4 linked regions of the Homo sapiens genome follow. The protein of the gene in region 2 interacts with the protein of the main gene of each other region in a pairwise test. Each region holds a gene or a part of one and is shown on either strand. Other genes may lie near its edges. The genes, in order: SERPINI2, HPCAL1, COLGALT2 and CREM.

Region 1 (7,040 bases), on a different chromosome or scaffold from region 2:
ACCTTTTGTCAATTGTTGAAACCAGATTACTGAAAATAATATTGAAGACCCAGAGCCCTGCCACTTTCTTACTATATAACTTTAAGCAAATTACTTTTCTAAGATTTTTCTTATACTGTTAAATGCAGTAATGATAACACATGCCTCTTAGTGTTGTGAGGATTCCATGAGATAATGTGTATACAATTTTTAGTGCTCAATATTAGCTAAATATTATTTGTATTATTACTCATTTAATTCTAACAGTGGCCATATATTATAATGCCAACATTGTAATAGGTGGCCCCCCATCATATCGCATTAAATTCCTCAATCAATTTGATGAAGGTCTAGTTTTACATTAAGGTTACAGACAAGATGGAGACAGGTAAATACCTTGCCTATGGTCACACAGCTAATTAATGGCTGAGCCAATACTAGAAGAGGTCAGCCAGACGTCTGAAAACAGGTGACTGTAGGGCAAGCAAGAGAGGGAGCACAGAACAGAACAAACAGTCAGTGATAGGGTGAGCAGTAGGATGAGAGATCTGGAGTAGCCGTACCAAGGAGACTTTTCAAAAGATGTAACACTTACCACAGGACATAAATGATCATCTTTTTGCTGGCTAGAAATTAATTCTAGGCTTGGCCAGCCTTGGATCTATAAGTGGGTGAATGTAAATTGTGTGTGGGTGGCAGGAAGGCAAGGAAAATGAGACTGGATATGAGAATAGATACGTTGTGACCAGCTGCAGTAGTGATTACAAAATGTTCGTTTACTTTGACCTATTGGACATGGATAAAAATGGGAATACTAGGCATACATTAAACATTATCCAGATGTTTCATATGTGAAAGTATTTTAAATTCAGCCTGTGACGTTAATAGAGTATTTTAATTATTTTACACACACACACACACACACACACACACACACACACACAGAGGTAATTGATTGGAAAGTGACCAGAATTTACTGTGTACTCACATAACCATCTAGGGCCACCATTGTCAAAGATTGTGTTGTATTTTTCTCCTCATGAGCAACCCTAAGATTTGGTTTGGTTGGTTCCAGCTCTGAACAGTACAAGTGATATGGTTTGGATTTATGTCCCCACCCAAATCTCATGTCAAATTGCAATCCCCAGTGTTGGAGATGGGGCCTGGTGGAAAGTGATGGGATCATGGGGGCAAATTTCCCCCTTCAGTGCTGTGCTCATCGTAGAGTTCTCACGAGATTTGGTTGTTCAAAAGTGTGTAGCCCCTGCCCCCTGTTTCTCTTCCTCCTATTCCAGCCATGTAAGATGTGCCCATTCCTCTTTGCCTTCAGCCATGATTGTAAGTTTCCTGATACCTCCCTGGTAACCAACAAATGCCAGCATCATGCTCCCTGTACAGCCTTTGGAACTGTGAACCAATTAAACTTCTTTTCTTTATAAATTACCCAGTCTCAGGTATTTCTTTTTTCTTTTCTTTTCTTTTCTTTTCTTTTTTTTTTTTTGAGACTCGTATTTCTTTATAGCAGTGTGAGAATAGCCTAATACACCAAGAATGATTCAAGCCCACTGTACCAAAGCTGGGATTTCAGATGATAACACAAACCCAGAGGGAAATTGATCCAAGACTTTTTTTCATTAAACAAGAACTCTGGGGATAAGGGGAAAGGAAGGGCCAATACCATTCCCCAACAGGGCCTGGAGGCCAGAAGTAGGTCATTCTTAAAACAAAAATTGGGATTGTTTTTCATTTTTCTGCAGCTTTTCCCTTTGTGAGATCTGTTTCAGCACAATGGTTACATTTGGGAGTGAATTACTCTCTTTTAAACAAATAGATATTATTTGCATATGCTAAAAATTCCATTCATGATTTAGTTGCTAATTGTTTATCTAGCATTTTGCTGCTCATTCTTCTACTTTTGCCTGCTGTTCTTTTGACAATTTTAGAGGAGGATTAAGGAAAAGGGAAAATGAACCACAACTGGGAGAAATATGAAGACTCATAAACTTTGGAAGAGGGACATTATATATATTGACCAATATGGTGGTGTTGAATTACATTTTGATTAGAAAGTAGTGGCAGTTAGCACATTAGCTTTGACTTCAAATAGACCTGAGTTTAAATCATACCTCTGGAACCTACCTTAACCTTAAGCCTGAAAATTAACCTCCTCAGGCTTCTATTTTCTTATACGTTAATGGAAATAATGCCGACTTCCTTAGATTTTTCTAAAGATTAAAAACTATAATTTATCTTAAGTACCTAACACATGGCAGTGCTTCTTCACACCTGGCTATTCATGGCTCCAATAATTATGGATAATTAGGAATTGGCTGTAGATTATACATTCATTAGATGGCTGAATGTGTTTTTATTGCTGTAGGTTTCATTGGACTATATTATGAGCAGGACTGTTACTTAAATGACTCTCCAGTGATAATTAGGCATTATTAGAAGTTGTAATAAGTCTTGCAGTATTTTTGTCATTATCCTAAAATTATTGGACTATTATAGCCCATTTATAGGTAGATTAGAACATATATTCTCCACCCTTTAAAAGCCCATACTCCATTCAGTTTAAAGACTGTGGTAATAAAAACAGGAAAAAAGCCAACCTCCCAAACCATCATGCTGCATATTATCTTTCTTAGTAGGAAGTTACAAGGAAGAGGGTGAAAGCAGTTGGCATAGAATGAGCTATTTTCTTTATCAGCTGATTTTAATGTGCATGTTGTGTCCATTCCCAGGTAGATAGGGTTCTGAATGAGTTACCATCTTCCAAAAAAACATATTGTTTTACCAAGAAATAATTTAGTCCCAGTAGAGTTCTGCCACAGCATGTTCATTGCTTTGGAGAATTATAATTAAGAAGCTCATTCAGTATTTCCAATTAAAACAATGATCTAATTAGACTGATTGCCCCACCTAATTTCTAGCTCCAGATGTGGGCCTACCTGCTGAATGAACAAGGATCCTTGAGCACTAGCGTATGCATTCTAACTGGGGAGCACAGGGGTCAATGCCCAGAGGGCATAGACAAAGCCCCTCATTGGGAATTGCCTGGAATTTTGCTGATGTAGGAAATATATATAGCTCCCTGTTTAAGATTATTACATGTGTCTTTTCTTTCATAAACAAAGTTTCTGATCTGTATTTAAAATGCAAATTAATGCTTTAAGCATCTATGAAGTCAATAAGTACTAGCTTCCCCCCACCCCCACTTTTATTTAAATGGGAAAGTGAGGTTCAGTGATTGCTTTTGACTTGGAATCGTGGAAGATCAGTGGCTGAGAAAATCTTTTGGGATTATCTGGTTAAGTTCCCTTTTCACAGGTGAGGCAAATTAAGGCACAGACAGGTGAGCCAGACACTAGTCTCCTAACTTACGGCTCAGTGTTGGAAGCAGTGGCTACCTCCTTTTTTTTTTGCCCACCCCCCCCCACTCCTGTAATTTTTGTCTTTTATTTCCTTTGAAAGAAATCTGGTTCCCCTTCCTTTATCCTTTTATAGGGCCTATTTAAAAGATATTAGGCCTGTCCATACACTAAAGAACATCTCATTGACTGTGACAATGGGCGAGATGAATGATGGGTTATAAATATTTCTCTCTTCCTTAATAGCTAACAATCTTCTCCAAGGACTGTGGACTCCTGTTCCCTGCTCATCATGTCATGGGCATCTGCCAGGAACCATCTTTGATGGTGTAAAAATCTTGAATACATAAGAGGGAAATTTTAGACTTGTTAGAAAGAAGCCAAGCAATTGAGACCTTAGATAGAACTTAGAATTCTCACCGAGTTTTGTTGGGTAATTGTTACTTCAAAAAAAAATGCAATTTCTGTTCCCTCTTTCCTCCAACCATTTATCTGGGAAGCAAGTTATTGGCAACCCAGAGCTGATTGTTGGAGCCGGGGAAAATGGTGTGAAATGTGAGAAAATGTAATTGAGATAATAAAAACAAAAGATTTTACAATATATTATCCTCTAAGTCATCCATTAAAAAATTGGTAGCAAAAATGTGCAGTGTTTCAAGACTTTTCTTTTTCTTTTTTTTTTAATAACAGATTTAAAGTAGAACAAAAAGTAGACTTCAAAGACGTTTTGTATTCTTTGAACATAACCGAGATATTTAGTGGTGGCTGCGACCTTTCTGGAATAACAGGTAGTATGATAAATAATTCTTATATTATGATGTTAATTTGTTTTGTTAGGACTACATTAACTAGCTGAGCTTAAAACTGAAAGAGCATTCAGCTCTGATAAATATACGCACAGTGAATAAATGTCATAGTCATGTTGAGCTGTCTGTAAACAAGCACTTTATGTTTAAGTAGTTTTTCTTAATGAAAGTCAAAAAGCATTTTAGAATGTTAGATAAGCACTCTGGCTATACTTCTAATAAAACTACATAAGTAAAAGTATTATATGGGTTTTTATTTCTGCCCTGTTTGGATCTCCTCATCTGAATAATGGGAATTACAACTTTGAGTCTCTCATCTAAGCAGAGCTAATACAACTCTTATAAACCAATTTGCAAATGTTAATTCACTAATATGAGAACACATGAAATAGTCATCCATAAGCTGCTGGATGATGAACACAATCAAGAAATTGTAACGCTACAGCTTGCAGATTTAGCAACAGAGTCTTTTGGGCTGACAACATATCTGAGAAGATAAGATGGAGCTCTTATGCTAACTCGCATCAGGGGAATCCTGCATGGTTAACACGTTCACTTGTACAACAAAGCCAAGATAGTCTTTGAATTCTTCGAGTCTCAGTGGTACACACTAGTTCAAAAATAACTCGCTAAAAAAATGGATGAAGAGAGCCAGTTTGTCCCAAGTTACTTACCCTCTTTTAAATTCAGTCTTCTGTTCTATAAAAATGGGCCTAAGCTTGTCTGTCTGATGGGGTTGTAAATCATAACATGAAATAGTGCAGAAATGTTTTATGTATTTATTTCTATATAGGTATCTGGGCTTTGGAAACGTGTTGTTAATTTAGTCATCACCCATCAATTATATGGGCAAATGAACAGAATGAAAAACTTTCCTGGTGGAGGAGGTGAATGAGGTCACAAATATCAAAATGTTCATTATCACCTTCACACACGGTGTAGCTACTCGTTCTCACACTGACAGATAGATCTGACTTCTCTGACAATTTTGTCCGCACTAGGTATGAGATGGTCAACATTAAATACTGCAACAGGATGCTCTGTAAGTGTGCCCTGAGACACAACCACCTCTTCAACCTTCAATAATCCAAACTATTTTTCATGCACTTCCTTTTCTTAAACTTCTTTCTGGCCATAGGGAGATCACTCAATATGCCTCAGACACTTCAAACAGCCACTTGTTCTGCAAATTCCCAGCAATTTGTGACTTCTAAAAAATCTCCTGTTACAGGCAGATTTTTAAAGAAAATACTTCCAAAATGTTTCATAAAAGACTTTATTCAAGAAAATGACCCAGTGCAGAAAAGAATAAATGTCCAGCATCTTCTGTTCTTTCCCTCTTGAGTTACCTATTTGAGCTGTTTTAACCATTTTGGTTCCGTCTTATTGCCTAGAATAGAATAGTCATAGCCAATGCTGATACCCCTGCTGGTAGCTAGGAGCACAGTAAATTCTCTGCTATCTCTACTTATCATTTGTACAATAAACATTCACTAAAGGCTACTATGAAGCAGCCCAACACTAGTCTTATGGGACATCTGTGTGAAAGGGACACTACCTTATATTTATATAGTTCACAAGTTTTGAATGAAATGTTTTTATAGAGTTATTTTGGAAACTGTTAGAAAAATATTTGACTTCTCACTCAGTTACTACTCCTTGTGTAACCTGTAGTAAAATATTTAACCTTTCTGAGTGTAAGCATTCTAATCTGTTAAGTGAGATAATATAGTGACTGGGGAAATAAATAAAAGAATGTATGTAAATCATCTAGTTTAACATTTGGCACATAGTTAAATATAAAACAGCAAGTGGGAAAAGTATCACATTAATATTACTTGCACATCTAGCAAACGTATTGTTTTCTTGTTCTCTTAATTTAATAACAATGTACTTAGAATTTTCATTTAAAAATTAAGAGAAATAATGACTATGAAGGTATAATGAATGAGTTTGTAGAGTCCACATTCTTACTTCTAACCTATCATATTTCAGGGCCTGTTCTTTTCCTAAGACTGGGCTTTCTCTGCAGTGAGATGGAACAAAGGAGACTAAGTGGATTAGTCTAATAGCCAGGGAGTCATTTGGGCTGGTGCCATTGCTAAACTGGGTGAAATTCTTCACTCCTTCCTAACCTGCTTTTTGGTCTTTCCTCTTGGTGTGGGCCACTAGGTCATTCCCTCTGTGTTTATTTGTCTTCTTCCAGGCAGTCCTGGGAGAAGAAGGTGCTTATTTGCCGGACCTTGAGAGAAATTCTCTCGCATTTCAGTTAATTCACACTAATAGTGTGGATGCCCATCTCTCTCCACTTTACAGGTTTCTATCACTAGACATACTCAGATGCATTGACCTATTTATTATTGACTTATATATTACAAATATTTATTGCGAGCCAATTATGAGCCAGGCAGTTTTCTAGAGCATGCTTCCTTTGTCCTCTGAGGAACATTGTCAGATCTATCTTGTCTTGCAAGGCCAGCTTGACATGGCTTCTGGGCTCCGGGTTTCACTTCTTCCTTCTTGAGGAGACTATACTTGCAATTCACTCTACCAGAAACGCTTCACATATACATCAGTTCCACCAAGGGGAGAAAAAGGAGCATTCACTCTCAGCTCATATCCACACCAGAACAAAACGTTGTAAAGCACGATCTTATGCTGAAAATTTTAACAGGTTTTAAAGTGTATCTCTGAAGTGATTTTGTAACAGGTGACACAGAAGTTCCTTAGAATTTCATAGCTTCCCCAGATTTGAAGGCAAGTACATTTTATTTTAAACTACGATCAAAACCAAATACAGAATATAAAAGGCACTTTGGCTTTGAGGTTAAATATACAGGGTGGGATTAATTCAGATCTGGAAAGCCTCTTTCATTCTGTCTAT
Region 2 (3,241 bases):
CCCCAGCGATGCTGCCTTTGGATCCCTTGGCAGGCGAGACCAACCAACCCCCACTTCTTCAGCTGGGCCTTCTGCTGCTGGGACCAGAAGCACTGACGGCAGCGGCGAAGGCTGGATGGAGAACCAGGCCTGCCACCTCTGGGTCCAGCCTGACTGCACCCTTGGCTATGCCCGTCCTCTCTTGGAATGTGGCTTTCCTACGACCTGAAACCGTGGAAGGAGAAGGAGAGGGAAGGGCTGGGGGGAGGCAGAAGCCTGACCGTCAGATCTGCCAAGAACAGTCATCGTTTATTTCCACGAGTATTTCTTGGCATTAGGCAGATATTGAAGAACAGGCTGTGCAAGATTTATAAACGCGGGGACAGCTGGAGGGACGTAAGAGGGGCCGGATTTACCAACAGCGGTGGCACGCAGCACACCCGCCTTGCCTGGAGAGTGCAGGGGCCACGGCCTGAGGAATGGGGGCTCCCGCGGGCAGACGCAAAACTCAGAAAATGCCATTTATTTTATCATTTTAATACCGGAAATGCCAGACCAATCAACAGGGAGGACAGACCAGACACAAATGCCTGTGCTCACAACACGGATGGGAGGATCATCACGGCTCAGGGCACACATGCATTTCCTTAGAAACAGGCAGACAAAGAGAGCATAAATACCACACAACAGCCAGGCTCAGGGGGCTGCGGGCCACAGAGGGCTGCGCTTCAAAGGCAGTCAGAGGCATTAAATACGGGACCTACACAATACACTCCACTTCACCATACATAATTTATATATTAAAAGAAAGGGGACCACAGTATCTATACGTGCAAGCGGCTGTGGTGGAGAAAATGAACGGGGGGGCAGCCATGCACGGGAGGGGCTCCCTGTATACCCTCCCGACGCCTCGTCCCCACCCTTCCCACAGAGTCACTTGGGATCACAAAACGCATGGGCCGGCCGGGGCGCAGCCTCGGGAGGTCCTGCCTGGTCTCCTCGGCATGGACCTCTGAGCTCCCCGTGAGCCGGGAGGTGCCTGGAACCAAGAACACTTGAACCCTGCATGTCACCACATCCCTGGGAGTTGCCCTGGAAGGGACCGGGCCAGGCGTGAGGGGAGGAATGTCGCGTTGGTCAGGTGGAGGAGGGAGGCGCAGCCACCGGGCTGGGCAGGTGCAACGCATGCCCCAGGCCCGGGGCCCGGGAGAGCAGGAACGATTGCGGGGCATCCACTCTTGCAAGCAAAGCTTAAACGGCACGACAAGCCTGTGTTTCTCTGCAACTGTCCAGGGGCCGCTCGCTCAGAACTGACTGGCACTGCTGGGGTCGCACTGCAGCAGGCGGACGATGGAGGGGTCGCTCTTGGCACCTCTGATGAATTCTTCCAAGGACAGTTTGCCTGCAGGGGACCAGAGACAATGGGATTAGCCAGTGCTCACTGTTCTTTATGCTTCCAGAGAGGATGGGGACAGCTCTCAGGTCAGGTATGCTCCCTTTGTTGAAAGTCCTGAGCCTTCTTGAAGCTGGACGGTGTCTAGTCTCCATTCACTTTACAGGCATTTCTGAAAAAAAATCCTTTTTCCTTTCCCTGCTCCCTGCAATACATCAGGTACCTCAAAGGGCTTACCCAGCAAGCTCAGCAGGACGTGGCTGATGAGGGCCATTTAAATCCTTTTAGAAATCACCCCACACTTCGCTTATTAAGGAACGTGTACACTGTGCAGAAAAATGAAGCATTTGCCTCTAACCCATACAGAATCCAGGCTGAGAAGGCCATGCTGGTTGGGGGCCCCCGGAAGCACGGTCCGGATCCTCCCTGGCATCAGCGTAGACCCGCTGCTCAGGCTTGGGGTACCAAACTCATGCTCTGTACTGTTTTGGCCCCATGCGGTGAGAGGAAAACCTAGAAAAAGATTGGTCGTGCTAAGGAATCAGCTGCCCCCTCATCCTCCGCATCCAATGCTGGTGACAACATATTCCCTCTCCCAGGACACAGACTCGGTGACTCCACACTGGGCTGAGTGGCCTCTGGAGGCTCGTGGCCTAGGGCAGGGCTCCGTAAGGCTGATCGGCTGAGCTGGGTGGGGTGAGGTTTTCTGACCCTCCGCTCCCCATCCCATAACCGCTGTCAATGAGCTCACACTGTGGTCACTATAGCCCTGGCTCTGCTAGTCCACAAGCAGGATAGGCTGTAAGGATTCTGCCCGTTCAGACATGGCCTCAAGGGCAGGAGGCGGTCCCTCTGGCTCCAGCTGGTGGGGAAGGATGAGGTTTGAGGTTGGCTGCGTCCTGGCGGCCTGGTCCTGGGGCAGCCCCTCCATGTGTCTGTTTGAGGCTCTGTGCTGTCAGCTGGAATCACTAGGGCACCCTGCAAAATGTCTGTGCAGGCAACACAGACGCATGCAGCCAGGCCCAGCACAGGGGAAGGCATGCAGGAGGGGCTCTCGGCTCTGGCGCATGGCAAGCCACCAACGTTTCCAGGTCTCAGGATCTTCGTCTCGAAGGTGGGATAATGGGAACACCCATCTCAAAGGCACCTGGGAGGATGCATTTGAGGACTCAGACCAGCACCAGGACGGAGGATGCCCCTGCACAGTAGGGCCCTGCTGGGAATTCAGCCCCTCCAGCCCACTGGCAGGCAGGGACACCTGTCCTCATGGGACTCTGGCCCAGGCTTGGGCAGGCTGGCTTCTTCCAGGGCACGAACTTGATGCCTCTGGGGCCTGGGCAGCCTGCTGGCCCCAAGAGAGCCCAAACAATGCCCGGGCTAAGGGGTGGGTAGGGAGAGGGAGGGACAGCCAGGCCCTCAGCAGACAGTCCCCAGGAACCTCTGCCAATGGAGAGAGTGGCTCCCCACCCTCCACCTCTGACCACTCAGGGCAGCCAGCTGTGTGGTCATCTCCTTGGCTAGGTGTGGGGCCTCAGAGTCCACGGCCCCAGCCTCCCCACTTCCAGTTCCTGACCCCAGGCCCTCCTGTCTCAGGCCGAGAGAGAGCAGGCCAGCCCAGATGGACCTCCAGTCAGGAGAACCAGAGCTGCCCCAGGACGACTCTGAGGGCTGCTGAGATGCTGGGAGCTTCCGAAGGTTCCACTGGCTCCTCCTGATGGAGGGCAGGGCAGGCGAGGGGGTTGCTGAGCACAGCCTGTCCCACATGTGCGGCCTGACAAGCTGAGGAGAGGGTGGCTTTAATGATACTTGTGTCCTGGAGAAACCCATCAGCCCAGCCTAGAGGCCTGGAGCAGCCAGGCACCTTCCAGG
Region 3 (7,040 bases), on a different chromosome or scaffold from region 2:
ATAATAAGAGCTCGTGGTTCTTCTAAGAACTTCACATTCATTTTCTGGTTTAAGCTTCAAAATGACCCTATCAGATATGCACTGTTATTATACCACTTTACAGGTGAGAGAACTGAGGTACAGAGAGGCTGTACAAGCATATTCTTCTAATGCATTTTTTAAAATAAGAACCAGCCAGATCAGGGCTGAAAAAAAGTGTATTTAGATATGTGTGTTTTTTTACAGATAAATATGATTCATTTTACTGGGCAGTGTAAGGTGATCTGAATGGCTTTTAAAGGGTTTGGGGAAGAACCAAATGATTTATAAATCAGATTGGGGCAGTTGTATGGATATGGATGTCTTCTTGATGAGTGGACACTTAGTTTGAACTCAGTTTTGAAGGAAGAGTAAAAATCAACTAAAACCTGGGAAAGAAGGATGGCTCTAGAAAAAGGGATCAGCAAGGCAAAAAACAAGCAAAAAAAAAAAAAAAGATAATAGGGCATCAACCAGAGTTTTCTCTCAGGGAGTTCAAGTGGGTGGCAGGTCTAATGACTGCAAGTCTCCAAACAGATTGTATTGTACCATAGAATCTCTTTGGAAGTGCTGACTTCTGGTCTGGCCCTAGGGGAATATTTGGCTGGGAAGCTTATGAGATATAACACTCTGATGGGAGGTGGTACCTCAGTTTAGGATGTTACAGATTTGAGGTGCTTCTACCGATTGCTTGCCTCTAGTTTCTCATTCCCAAGCTCTATGCAACATTCCAAGATGCCAAACTGATTAGTATCCATTCTGCAAAGCCAGCACATGCTGATGTCAAAAATGGCTGTGAGCTACCCAGAACTTTGTAAAATAGAACCGCAGTGAATACAGAGCCACACAGAATTCAGCTTCCTCTGAATCTGACCACAATAACTCACTCTGTGCAGACTCACTCTTCTCATTCATCCACTCACAGGCTAGAGGAGCATCTGATTTCTGTCCCAGATGGGTCAGTGAGAGACCTGGCTTATTGATCACATTCAGACTCCCCTGTTATGTGATAATTTTTCTCACTTTAAGTTCTGGACCAGATCTGCACTGCACATACAGATGAAATGAGTATCATCAAATTGACCTGGAAGATACTGTTGTTGAAGAATGTCTGCAGTTATCTCAGTCAGCATCAAGTTTATTCAGATTAGTCTGAACAAAGGAAAATTTATATTTTAGAGATACTTTGTATAAGCAAAAAGGAAAGCTTTTTACATTTACCTGTCTGATCTCAAAATCCACCAAGCTAATTGTTTTCCTTCAAATATCACAATCCTGTGATAAGGACCTAAGGAAGATATCTATTTCATGTGTCCTAAAACCTGCACTAAGTTTTAGGGAATTGGGAATATGCTGAGATGAAGGGAACTGTGAGGCATTGTGACAAGTGGTAGTGTACTTCAGTGGGTTCTCCTTAATTCAGTGGAACCATGAGCAAGTAGCCTTAGCAACAGAGGGAAGGCTGACCTCATCCTCCTTAAACCTATGATTAGGGAGAGTGGGGCCAAGTACCATGACAGTGAAAACCGAAGCATGGCGCAGGGAAAAACATTTGCCCCAAATGAAACATTAAGTTTTTCTTTTGGAGAGCCTGCTGTTGCTTGTGGGAAGACAGTTGGGATTCACAGAGTCTGTGCAGGCACAAGGCAGTAACTGCTATGTAATTACAGAAAGATTTGGGCATTTTGTTTGGCAGAGTTTTGAAAAGTAACATACTAAATTGGGAACCGCTTTATGGATTTTTAAATAAAGAGAGGAGCTTCTGTTGACATAAACATAAACAGTGATGAGCTGGGGGATGGTCCTAACATTTTGCATACTACTTTATTTCTGCATTGTTTGGGGATTATCTTGAATTTATCTCCACATTTTAATGTCCAATCAGTAGCATTTTCATAATTGTTTAACTAGAAATACTAATATACTTTGTGTTTATAAACTGTTCCAAACTAGTATCAGTGACATTTTTCAGCACCAGTGGTAAGAATGATGTCATATTTTATCATTACACTCTTGATATTAAATGTTGTATGTTATCCCTACAGATAGAAGTTTCGGTTTATGGCTGAAAAAGCAGATGATGCCTTAGGCCCCTTCTGTCTGTTAGTCTGTTTTCCTCACCTTTTTCCTCCTTTCCTCATTTTCCCAATCTGGTAGTTTAGCGTGGAGGGCATCAACCAGAGTTGGAGGAAGAAATATACAAGCTTAGGGTCAGATAGACTAGAGCATAAATCTTCTGTGTGATTGTGGGCACATCAGTAAACCTCTAAGACATAGCTGCCTTATCTTCAAATAACTAATAGTAACACCTGTCTCAAAGAGTTATTGTTACAAGTAAATGATATAAGGTATGCACAGTGTCTTTTACATAAATGCTACTAACAATGATAGTTGCTATTTCTTTTGAATCTTTTCCTTTTTCTCCTATCTCCTTTACCTTTACCTTTCAAAATCAAGATTTTAAAAAATCTTCAAATGGAAATTTGTTTAGTTTCTTCTTTCCAACAACAACAAAAAATATTAGTATAGGAAACTAACATTTATCTGGATGCAGTGGCTCATGCCTGTAATCCTAGCACTTTGGGGGGCCGAGGTGGGCAGATTTCTTAAGCCAAGGAGTTCAAGACCAGCCTGGGCAACATGGTGAAACTCCATCTCTACAAGAAATGTAAAAATCATCCAGGCACGATGGCATGCACCTATAGTCCCAGCTACTTGGGAGACTGTGGGTGGATTGCTTGAACCTAGGAGGTGGAGGTTGCAGCAAGCCGAGATTGAGCCACTGTGCTTCTTCCTGGGCAACACAGCGAGACCCTGTCTCAAAAGAAAAGAAAAAGGAAAAGGTAAGGGAAGGGAAAAATAAAGAACTAAGGAAGGAAGGAAGGAAGGAAGGAAGGAAGGAAGGAAGGAAGGAAGGATACATTCATGGAGGCACTGTTCTAGACACTTTGGTATCAAAACTGATTTACTCCAGACAACAACCCTAGGTGGGAGATGCCATTACATTCTACTCTATCACTTTACACAGAAGGAAACCGAGGCACAGAGAATATAAATAACTTGCCTGAGGTCACTAGGCTAATGCATGGTGGAGCCAGGATGTGACCCAGGCAGCTAATGTTGCAGACCGAGTACAGATGGTCTGCTTAAGATTGTGAAAAGACCAATTAGTTCTAGTTTTTGCTTCTGTCGGTTGACCCAACTTGGGAAGATAAGAACGCTAGTGTTTCTTTCAAATAAGAATTGTCATTTCCACTTGAATGATGCAAGGGTCTTAGTGGTTCTCTTCCGCTGTCTTGATAATTTCATCACTTAGTTCAGGCACTTTTTAGTGAACTCTAATCTGTTTTGGTATATTTCATAGGGACAGATTATGACTAAAATGTGGGTTGTACATAAATATGCAGGTCACTTGCTGTGATCATAGCTACATAACAGTAGAAAGAAATTTCTCAAGTATTATTAGTGGCAAATGATTAAGGTGGCACTAATCATACACGTATTGGCTACATTTTCAGTTCATATTGGTAAAATAGAGATTCCATTTTTCAGGCTTTTTAATCAGTAGTCTTAGATTTGGTTGTCCCCTAAATTCAGCTTCATTCCAAATGATTGAAGAAATTATCAATCCTCCCTGCAACCTCCAATTTCAAAATATGATTGGAGCTCAGAATATTTCCTCTGGGTAAAAACTGAAGTGACTAATAAATGACACCAATCCTGTTGTTCCAGTTATGACAGCTTAACTACAGAATTAGTAAGAATGCCTAAGTTGCCCTGGTTTTATTATATTGAGTTCCATGATGAGGCATCTAAAGCACAGGGCAGTTAAGAGATTCCCATGGTGATTATGGAATGAGATAACTGATTTCTAGATTTTTAATCCTGTGTAGCTGTTTTAATGCTGATTATTTTATAATGAATATCCTTCTTGGTTTAAAGGAGCATGGGGAGTATTTTAAGCAGAGTTTGGTTTTCTCAGATCTGTTTTTAGCTCCTTTATCCAAGTGATTAGGCCAGGGAGTTTCTTTGTGACTCCAAATACATAAGCATGTGCTTCTTAGGTTCCTTTTGCTTGTCTGTTTCTGGTGGTCATAGGAATGAACAATGAATGCCTTGTAACTGAGAAGGCTGCTGGTTGTCTCTTGGTTCTTTTTCCAACACTTAAACGTGCACTTGGGTCATATTGCTGTGTGGCACCGTCTCCAAGTCTATGGCACAGTATAGTAGGACCATTATAAGGCTTATATAGGACTATAGTAGGACAATAATAAGGCTTGTTTCTGCATATTTCTTGACATAGCATAACAACATACAGTAAAGTCTGAAAGAAAATCATTAGCCTATGGTATGGCCACTACACCTATTCCCCAGTTACCATATCATGAAGAACTTTTACCATATGTGTTTAAATTATAGCTATTATTCATCAGGAATTACAAAACGTATGTATTCTATGTTTTGACATTTTTATTTCAAAAGAGTGACTTGTTCATTTAATTGCATTTAATTGATATGTTGTTAGCATATCAAAAATTGTTAGTTTTTAAAAATTTGAATCCCTTAGGGTCTTTATGGATTTTTAATAGTACTTCAGTTATTTTAAGAATTTGCTCTTCTGACTTTTTTAAATGGGAAAGTAATAAAAAAAGTATGATTGGGAATATCACAAAAAGTAAATCTCCCATCTACTCTATACCACCTGCCAGTGACCAATATTAACACTTTCTTTCATATTTTTCTAGAAACTTTCTATACATATACATATATCCTTTTCATTTTAACCCAAATATGAGTGTTTTACATATCCAGTTCTGGATAAGTGTGATATTTTAAAATCCATCTCTCTATCCCATGTTCTTTAAACACTGCCAGCCTATCTACAGCCATGCCCTGGGTGGCACAATAAAAGCCAGCTTCATATAACACCTGTTCCAGGCAGGTACTCTGAAGGCCTCTCTGATAACACCCGTCCTGCTCTCTTGTCCTTGTCTCTCTGGCCTCTAGAAGGTCTGGCCCTAATAAAAAAAACTTTTTGATGAGGTGTAATATTTATCCAAAAGTTCATATATCATAAATGTATAACTTGGTAACTTTTCACAGACAAAACATGCCATGTAACCAGCACCTGACCTTGCCAGGCCTGGATTCATACACAGCAACTATTGTTGGAGCTGAGTAGCTGCTGTCCCCTGGATTTTGTCCAGGCAGCCCAGTCCCCATCAGACCCACACTGTGTGCACTTGCAGTTAGTCCCCGCTGTCTTTCTTTGACTTGACTTGCCTGACCCATGTTGACATTTGGGTGGTGAGCTTTGCTCCCACCTCAGGCTGCTGAAGGAACCCTAGGACCCAAGCAGTAACTACTTTGGGGAACCAGCAGGCTTGGCAAGCTGCCAGCGAGTGACCTAGTGGTAAAAGGATCAGGATTGTATTACTTTTCCCTTAGCTCTCTACTCCTCTGGTAGGAAAGCTGTGCATTAATGTTCATAAAAATAAAAATCTCATTATAGGTAATAATTGAAAAGTCAGGTAGAATATAAATAGAGTGGCTGTAATTAATTTGCTGGAACTTTCTGTAGTTCAGATCCGTGAAAATGCAGCATTTGTGGTAGGTGGCATTAGCCAAGTCTCTTGCATGAATTAAACCTCAGATTTGGCTGCAGGGCGTTTCTTTTCCTCTCTAGGAGCACCATACAGAAATCCTTTCAGAGTTAGACTTTGAATAATAGCTCCATGACATCTTGCTAGGGCTGACTTTGTAACGTGTTTCACTTAATTGAAGCAACAATTATTATTTTAGTTGTTTGTCAAATTCAGCAAGCTAAGGCCTGTCCCCTGACTTGTTGGTTTAACTGATAAGATTTTGTTCCTCTGCAAACATAATGCAAAATAATCTCCTTCCCTCCAGTGTTTTCTGATTAATGTTTGAAGACATCTTAGAAGATATGTCTTTCAGAAACACAAATAATAACATAAATAATGATCTTAGAATAGTGATCTTGGGCTGTATACCCCCAAGAGTATGGTAGAAGATGAGTCTGGGACAAGCTGCTGAGCTGAAGCATTTTCATGAGTACCTGATTTCATTCACACATTGGCTTTATTGGAATAGTTCATTACCTTCCAGGTTGAATCACTTCAAGACCTATTGAGGGATACATCAGGCTGCAGAGAGGAGGTTCCTTACATAGAGCTTTCCCCATTTGGACTGCCAAGCCCAAAGTGCATACAATTGCTGCCAAGAGGGAAGTAGGACTGTTTCTTTCCAGTCCCTTTTCTTTCTGAGAGTGATTGTATATGTTTTGGAGATGGGGAGGGCAGTGGTGAAGGCAAGTATCTCATTCTCACAAGAGAGAGACATAACTCTAAGACAGGAGAGTCTGTGGAGGTACATTGATTGGTGTTCTCCCTGAAAGCCATATTAAGTGAGAAACTGCTGCATTTTAGAGTCTTGGGAAAGGTAGAATTTTCTAGAGACTAACAGTAGAACTTAAATTCTTGGGATAGTTGTGAAAAGTGTGGTTGTAGACATTTGGGGCCATAGCATTCCCGACACGGAGTCCCTTGCTGGACTAATAGACTGTTTTTTAGTTTCTTGGTTGCCAGCCAGCCCCATAATCCTGTCTCAGCACCACACACCACAATGATTATGGTTTACACCCGCCAAGATAGTGGAAAGTTGCTGCCAAGTGGAATCAGGATTTTTCATGTCATCACTGCACCATTGAACAGTAAGCTTATATGCAGCTTCCACGCCACTGCTTTCCTTGTGCTAGAAACAGGTTGGGCGGGAGAGTATTCAGACAGTCAGACCATCTCTTGTGTTGCAAATGGATTTTGTGGAATTGGCATGTAAGGCTTGAAACAGCCAGCATACGAAAATATTTTAGAAAAGTACAAGCCTCTTCTCTGCCTTTCCTCAATCTTGTTAGATTTTAATAAAATTTATTGGGTACGTTGGTTTCCATTGTAAGCTTTTTATTTAGCAAGACAAACTATGGATTTCTAAAACAATGGATT
Region 4 (7,040 bases), on a different chromosome or scaffold from region 2:
GAAGATAGATTAACATTTTTAAAAAGACTTCCACATGCTGCGTTCTCTGTGTTTTATTTCACTGACAGGCCAGTGTGGCAGAAACTGAAGAGTCAGTTACAGAATGTCAATAGAACTGAGGTTGAGACACCCTGATGTAACAGCACTTTATCTGGCTCACCTAGAGCAGTTATTTTCTGTACACACTTTAAAAACAGGGTATTTTTAAACCATGGCTTTCCAAAGATTTCATGGGTCTCAGGATTCAGCCCTCATAGTAAAAGGGTTTGAGAGAGATCTAACTAACTTCTTACAAGTATGAAAATGTCAAAAGACACTGCTTTCTTGGCCCCTTGTGGCTAGACATGAGTAAATTGTGTATGTTTTCATATATTTGAATGTGTATTTTTCAGTTGATAATTAGTTTGATGTCACAGAAATAGTGCTTTAGAAAGAGCAGCCCAAGGTCAGGTAACCACAGTGTATTAGAAGTACAAAGCCTAGGCCGGGCGCGGTGGCTCACATCTGTAATCCCAGCACTTTGGGAGGCCGAGGTTGGTGGATCACCTGAGGTCAGGAGTTCAAGACCAGCCTGACCAACAAGGAGAAACCCCGTCCCTACTAAAAATACAAGAAATTAGCCAGGCGTGGTGGTGCATGCCTGCAATCCCAGCTCCTCGGGAGGCTGAGGGAGGAGAATCGCTTGAATCTGGGAGGCGGGGGTTGCGGTGAGCAGAGATTGCACCATTGCACACCAGCCTGGACAAGAGCAAAACTCCGTCTCAAAAAAAAAAAAAAAAGAAGTACAAAGCCTAGAACAGAGCAGCCACTCAAAAAATAGAATGAATGAATGAATGAATGAATGAATGAATGGCTATCATTTCCTCATGACAGATGATATTATAAAAAACTTAAGCCCCCTGTGAATCTAGGAGAGTTAAATGAGGTATGGTTTCAAATTCCAATCATAGAACCTAGTTTTTCAACACCAAATTATCAAGCTTTTAAATAACGATCAAGTCAATCTGAGGTGAGAGTAGCTGCCTCAGGGTAAGAACCCCTAAATAGGTAGATAACAAAGACCTTTACTTCCTTTTTTCTCTTTCTTTTTGCTTTACTCGTTTCCTTTTTTCTTTTCAGTAATGTTTCCCCACAGTTCTGATCAAAAAACTTTGTTTTCACAATATGAACAGCTGACACATCAAGAATCTGTTTCTCATTTTATTTTCTGGGGAAGTCATTATATAATTAGATATGGAAAACAAAAGCTAAACAAACACACACACACACCCCTCACACACTGGCTCTAGTGAGAAAACATTTCTACTGATTAAGTCAGGCACGTCAGCCTCATTTTCATTTTTATGCCAAAGGTGCTCTTGATTTTGTTGTTATCAAATGACAGAGGACCTTCCCATTGAAAATGTTCTCTCTCATCTGACAATAAACAAAATTTCCCAGTGCCTCAGGATCCTGGAAATAGGTTTTACGTGGGCCTGTCTGTATTCAGAGATTTGAGGAGAAAACTGTTTAGGTTTCAAAATAGTCAAGGATAGCATAACATGTGCTTTCAATAAACATAAATCAAGATAGAAAAAATAAGATGAAATTAACTGAATGAATTTAGACATATCTTCTATTTTAGCTATTTATTTAAGAGATGGGGTCTTGCTGTGTTGCCCCACATCCTGATATTGGTCTAGCTGGTCTTAAACTGCTAGGCTCAAGCAATCCTTCTGCCTCAGCCTTCTGAGTAGCTGGGACTACAGGCACAAACCACCAAGCCTGGCGATGTTATACACTTCTTATTTATTTATTTGTTCATTTATTTTGAGATGGACTTTCACTCTTCTCGCCCAGGCTGAAGTGCAATCGTGTGATCTCAGCTCACTGCAACCTCCACCTGCTGGGTTCAAGCGATTCTCCTGCCTCAGCCTCCAAAGTAGCTGGGATTACAAGTGTGCACCACCACACCCGGCTAATTTTGTATTTTCAGTAGAGATGGGGTTTCACCATGTTGGCCAGGCTGGTCTCGAATGCCTGACCTCAGGTGATCCGCCCACCTCAGCCTCCCAAAGTGCTGGGATTACAGGCGTGAACCATCACGCCCGGCCCATGTTATATACTTCTAATCCTAAATTTATACACATGAGCTAATTAAAATACATACACATGTAAATGTTTATATTTAAAACCACTCTTGTTCCAAATTGCAATCCAAAGATTCATAAATGAAATCTCACTGCATTAACTTTAAAAACAGCAGCAAACAGACCTTTGTTCCAATGAATTCTCAGGTTTAAATTCAGAGTGACCATAAGAGAGCACCTATGAGTACTTGTACCTTAAAAGCCAAGAGGTGCATTATAGCAGAAGGAAGACTAAATCATGCTATAACAACAATAGCAACATCAAAGTTTAAAAGCCAGAGTTACATTAAGTAGTGCCTTAAAAAATTTTGAAACAGTTGCCTTAGAGAAATGTAAACAACGTCACTATTAAGAACTGCAACTGGATTAACTTTCGAATGTGTAAGCCTATTATGTTCTAATTCCCTTTATGAAGAAGTTGAATTGGTGCTTATTCGTGAGCCTCCTGAGAATTCTGAATTCTTATAAGGAGTCCACAAAGTTCATATTTTTCTTTTCATAATGGTGCAGTTTAGATTGACCCACTTACCTTTCATGTATAAGAATTCCAGAAAGATGAGTTAATACTCTAATAAGATTCCTCGTAAAATACAATAGGCACAAGCAGAGACAAGGGCCATTTGTGGGAAAAAAACTGAAGTCTTGGGTGATAGTCTTTAATTGGTACAGGAAGAGGTTGGGTATAGTAGGATGGAGGATTTAAGTAACCTTTGTTTCAAGAGGAAATTTAATGAATTAGGAAGCTTCAAACATTTTAATTTCCTCGGTTGCTTTTACAAATTCACTCATTTACTGCCTATCTTAACTGTCTCATGCAGCAAGTAACATTCTTTGTTAATTCTAAGGCTGTCTCTCTCCCGCCATCTCTCGGGTATATGCTTCTGAAATAAAAGACTTTCTTCGACCAGCTCAACTGTTATGCAACACACCTATCACTAAGATCTGTACTTCCAGTGAGGATTCTGCAGGTACAGCTCACTTACTTGGTGTTGTAATAATGGATCCCTGTCTATTTTATGCTTTTTCCTACTCCCCAGGGAGCAGCCTATTCCAACTTTCACTTTTTAGTTTTTGTGATAATAGTAAGTCAATATAATAAGGCCAACTTCTGCCAAATATCTTTCAACTATTAAAAATGTAACTGCTTGTATATGGGAAAACTTGAATATACTTTATTTCTTCAACTTTGATACACATTTAGTTCTTTTAAACACCAGCTAACTCATTATTCCAAATTAAAAATAACTAATAAAATATTGGAAAAAAAGAAATAAAAGCAAAGTTTGGGAGAAAGCCATCCATGGATAAAAGCTGAACAATTAAACCTAAAATTTTTTTTTATAATAAAAGGTTATGAAAGAGCATTAAAAAAAATTTACAGCTCAAAGGGAAGGAAAAAAATAGGAAAATCTCCAGAAATTCTAATAAAATACGTTCCTCTATTCAAAAACCAAAGGAAACTGGCAATTGTTTCCATTTCTAGACATTCTGCTACAACATTAAAGCATTAATATCTGCTAAGTTAGTTCTATAAAAAATAAGATCAATAAAAATGGATGTTGTGTGTGTAAGTATGTTTACCCTCCAATTAAAGTAAACGTCTTCTAAAAAGTTTGAATGTTGTTAGTATTCACTTCTCAAAGAATTATCTACATATATTTCACTAAATGTCCCCAAAATGCATTTTTAACAAAAGAAATTCACATTGTGTGAACAAATGGCAATTTTTACCTGCAGACTGTACATACAGAACTATAACTTCTCATCAGAATAATTTCTAGGATCATACTGTATAGACTCAAATTAAGAAACCAAAGTAAGAAATAGTCCATGACCTCTTATGTGGCAAATAGACAGATGTGTTTTTTTTGTTTGTTGTTTTGAGACAGAGTCTCACTCTGCTGCCCAGGTTGGACAGTGCAGTGGTGCAATCATAACTCACTGCAGCCTCAAACTCCTGGGCTCAGAGAATCCTCCCACCTCAGCCTCCTGAGTAGCTGGGATGAGCGCATACCACCACACCCTGCTAATTTTTAAAATTCTTTTGTAGAGACAGGGTCTCACTCTATTGCCCAGACTGGTCTCAAAGTCCTGGCCTCAAGCAACCCTCATTGCCTAGACCTCCCAAAGTGCTGGGATTACAGGTGGGAGCCATCACACCTGGCCTAAGATCTAATTTCTACAGATGCAGTTTTCTAGTTCTCAACCAAAATTCCTGACTCTGCTCCTCTCATCCCCCCCACAGACACACAGAGTGAGGTTTAAGGCCAGCCCCCTGCTGTGAGCAGGTACCAAGGACACAGGGAATGAAGCCATTGGGGCTGGCTGGAGGGAAAGTTCAATGAACATGAATGAGACAATGGTACACCTAACTTAATTTCTCTGTTTCATGCCAATAGTAGCATGTCTTTTTCCCCCTACTTTTACCCATTATCTCCTTTGTCTTCACAGGAACCCCAGAGTTTGGCAATTTAGTATTATTCCCACTTCAAAGACTAAAACCTGAGATGTGAATTTAATAAAGCTTCTTGCTCTGATCATTGAGTTTGCAAATGGCACAAAGATGGTTCCTTCCACATCCTCTCCAGCTTCAACCCCATACATTTTCACAATTTCAAATTTTCAGCTAATAATCTAGACAAGTTAACCCTACAGCATCTGCTTCCCTATCAACTTGTAAAGGAATCACTGCTTCTATCAGAAGTCCTAAGTAGCATTAGCATATGCCAGAGAAATGTTACGATGACAGCATCTTAGTGGTTCCCAACACTTTGAGAAGTCTTAGTGTCATTTCAGCAGTCACTTCCAACCTTTTCCCTGTCATTACACAAACAGAACATGATGACATGTGTACAGCCCACTGGGGTGAGTGGATGGAGCTGCTCAAGGCCAGGGCTGACCAGCCAGGAGGCGCCAGCAGCTTCTGCCCAGCCCCTCTGGGGACGGGGGGACGAGGCACTCAGCACTCTCATAACCTGCGTGCTGTGCTGTAGAGGCTCATCAGCTGGCATATTCAGTTTTACAGTTCTAAAACCCACCAGAGATTCCCAGTGTGCCAGACAAAAGAGCATGTAAACGAGAGAAGTAATAAAAAAATGACAATGTAAACCTCAAGGTCTATTTCTTACAGATGGTGGGGATTTTCTTTTCCTAACACTGACTTTGGACAAGTCTACTGGGTGCCCTGTCAAACGTGTGAATACACTACACCCCGGATCTGCTAGGTATCATGGTAGGAGTTCCCCTCAATTACCAACAGAGAATGTATTTAATAGTTTACTACTGCAAATCTACCACTGCTACAAGAAAAACTCTAAAAAGCTCCACAAAAATAATGACTATATAAAGTCTTCTCATACATTAAAGATTATAGCTTGTTTTAGTAGTCAGGACTTAAATTAAGACTTGAGTTTTTTTTTCTTGGTATTGCTACTTTTTAAAGGAAAAACAAAGAATATATCTAAAATCTTAATACCTTATTTGGATAAACACATTATTTAATATCACATATATTCCAGTACCTAAGTAGCTCTTTTTAAAGTCAGAAAACTAAAATTATGAATCTCTTCAACAACATGACTGCTGTCAATATATTTGTTCAATTACTTTGAGGACCTAGGGTAGCAGAGTTTACAAAACTCACTTTACTTCATATTATAATTACATGGGAAATTGATTTAGACAACTTCCATGGACAATTTATACTTCAGAAAGGACAGGAATATCACATTATTCCAGTACCTAAGGGGCTAGCTTAGGATATGTGATATCCCTAACCTTTCTCCTCCTTTTTCTTTTCTTTCTAGCTCTTGCTTTTTACGTATCAAACACTCTTCTTTTGGGAAAAAAACTAGTGCTTTAATCAGAGCAAAAAGCACAGAATTAACGGTCCATTAAAATGCACAAGACTGAATGTGAATGTATCTGTTTATTTAGAGCTTTCAGTGTGTAAAATTTCAAATAAAATTATCTATCCAATTGCTACAGTTTAAAAAATTAAATCATTTTTCCATTCTCTTTTAGGAAAAACTGTAGCACAAATTAACAGAGTAGAGAGTAGTGAAACATTGAAAACATACTTTAGAAAACTCTCAGATTAGTAAGAATAGTATGTAATTGTGGGTAACAAAAGCCAACAAGAATGAAATACAGACATTTATGTTCGCATGCATCATAAAGACAACAAAAACAATGTTTTACTAGAGATTAATATAAACATGTAAATAGGAAAAATTCTCCTTTTTACCCCAAAATTTTCTTCTATATTCGGCAGTCAAAATTTTTACTTTTCAAAATTATATGACAGCTGTCAATACAAAGATCTCACTTTTTAACATATACTTTCATTCTATGATACAGTTTAGGTATTAATGATGCATTTTAAAATGGAACAATTTAATGCCAAAACCTGAGTTGCTTCAATATAACTAGAGAAGACTTAAAGCTAGCACTGTATCATATCGAATTGCAGCATACATACTGTATTGCCCCGTGCTAGTCTGATATATGCTAGTTGGTACTGCCATGGTAGCAATACTAGGTGGTGTTCCTTCTTCCTCTGATCTCTCTTCTTCAATCTTGGGAACACCAGGCACATCAGAGGACAGTTCATTCAGTATTTTCCTAAAATACAATTTAACAAGGTAAGTCACTAAGATACATGAATAAGTCTTAAAACAGAAAAGCTATAAAGGAAGAATTGATTTGATGTATAATTATTCTACCATTTTGGAAAAAGTATCTTTACATTAGGAAACTTGGTTAACTTACCTATAAGAGGGTCTTCGTGAAAGGATTTCTCTACGTTTATGAGAATCAATTACACCTTCTGATTCTGCAGATTCATCTGTCTCTGCAATTGCTGCTACCTATAATACAAGATTTTCTGAAATGTATCATAAAATATATGCT

What was found.
Region 1: the proteins of HPCAL1 (region 2) and SERPINI2 interact in binary tests that used the Homo sapiens proteins (3 or more experiments, as listed by UniProt).
Region 3: the proteins of HPCAL1 (region 2) and COLGALT2 interact in binary tests that used the Homo sapiens proteins (3 or more experiments, as listed by UniProt).
Region 4: the proteins of HPCAL1 (region 2) and CREM interact in binary tests that used the Homo sapiens proteins (3 or more experiments, as listed by UniProt).

Annotation. Positions count from the first base shown.
Region 1 is NC_000003.12:167,450,034-167,457,073, reverse strand, and holds part of SERPINI2 (serpin I2 precursor), read left to right. Parts: intron 1-4,040; coding exon 4,041-4,138; intron 4,139-7,040.
Region 2 is NC_000002.12:10,424,864-10,428,104, reverse strand, and holds the end of HPCAL1 (hippocalcin-like protein 1), read right to left. Parts: exon of another isoform or gene 1,382-3,241; coding exon 1,284-1,381; 3' UTR 501-1,283; downstream 1-500. UniProt on the Homo sapiens protein: May be involved in the calcium-dependent regulation of rhodopsin phosphorylation.
Region 3 is NC_000001.11:184,027,714-184,034,753, reverse strand, and holds part of COLGALT2 (procollagen galactosyltransferase 2), read left to right. Parts: intron 1-7,040. UniProt on the Homo sapiens protein: Beta-galactosyltransferase that transfers beta-galactose to hydroxylysine residues of collagen.
Region 4 is NC_000010.11:35,178,846-35,185,885, reverse strand, and holds part of CREM (cAMP-responsive element modulator), read right to left. Parts: intron 7,015-7,040; exon of another isoform or gene 6,998-7,014; coding exon 6,900-6,997; intron 6,753-6,899; coding exon 6,610-6,752; coding exon of another isoform or gene 6,557-6,609; exon of another isoform or gene 6,039-6,556; intron 1-6,038.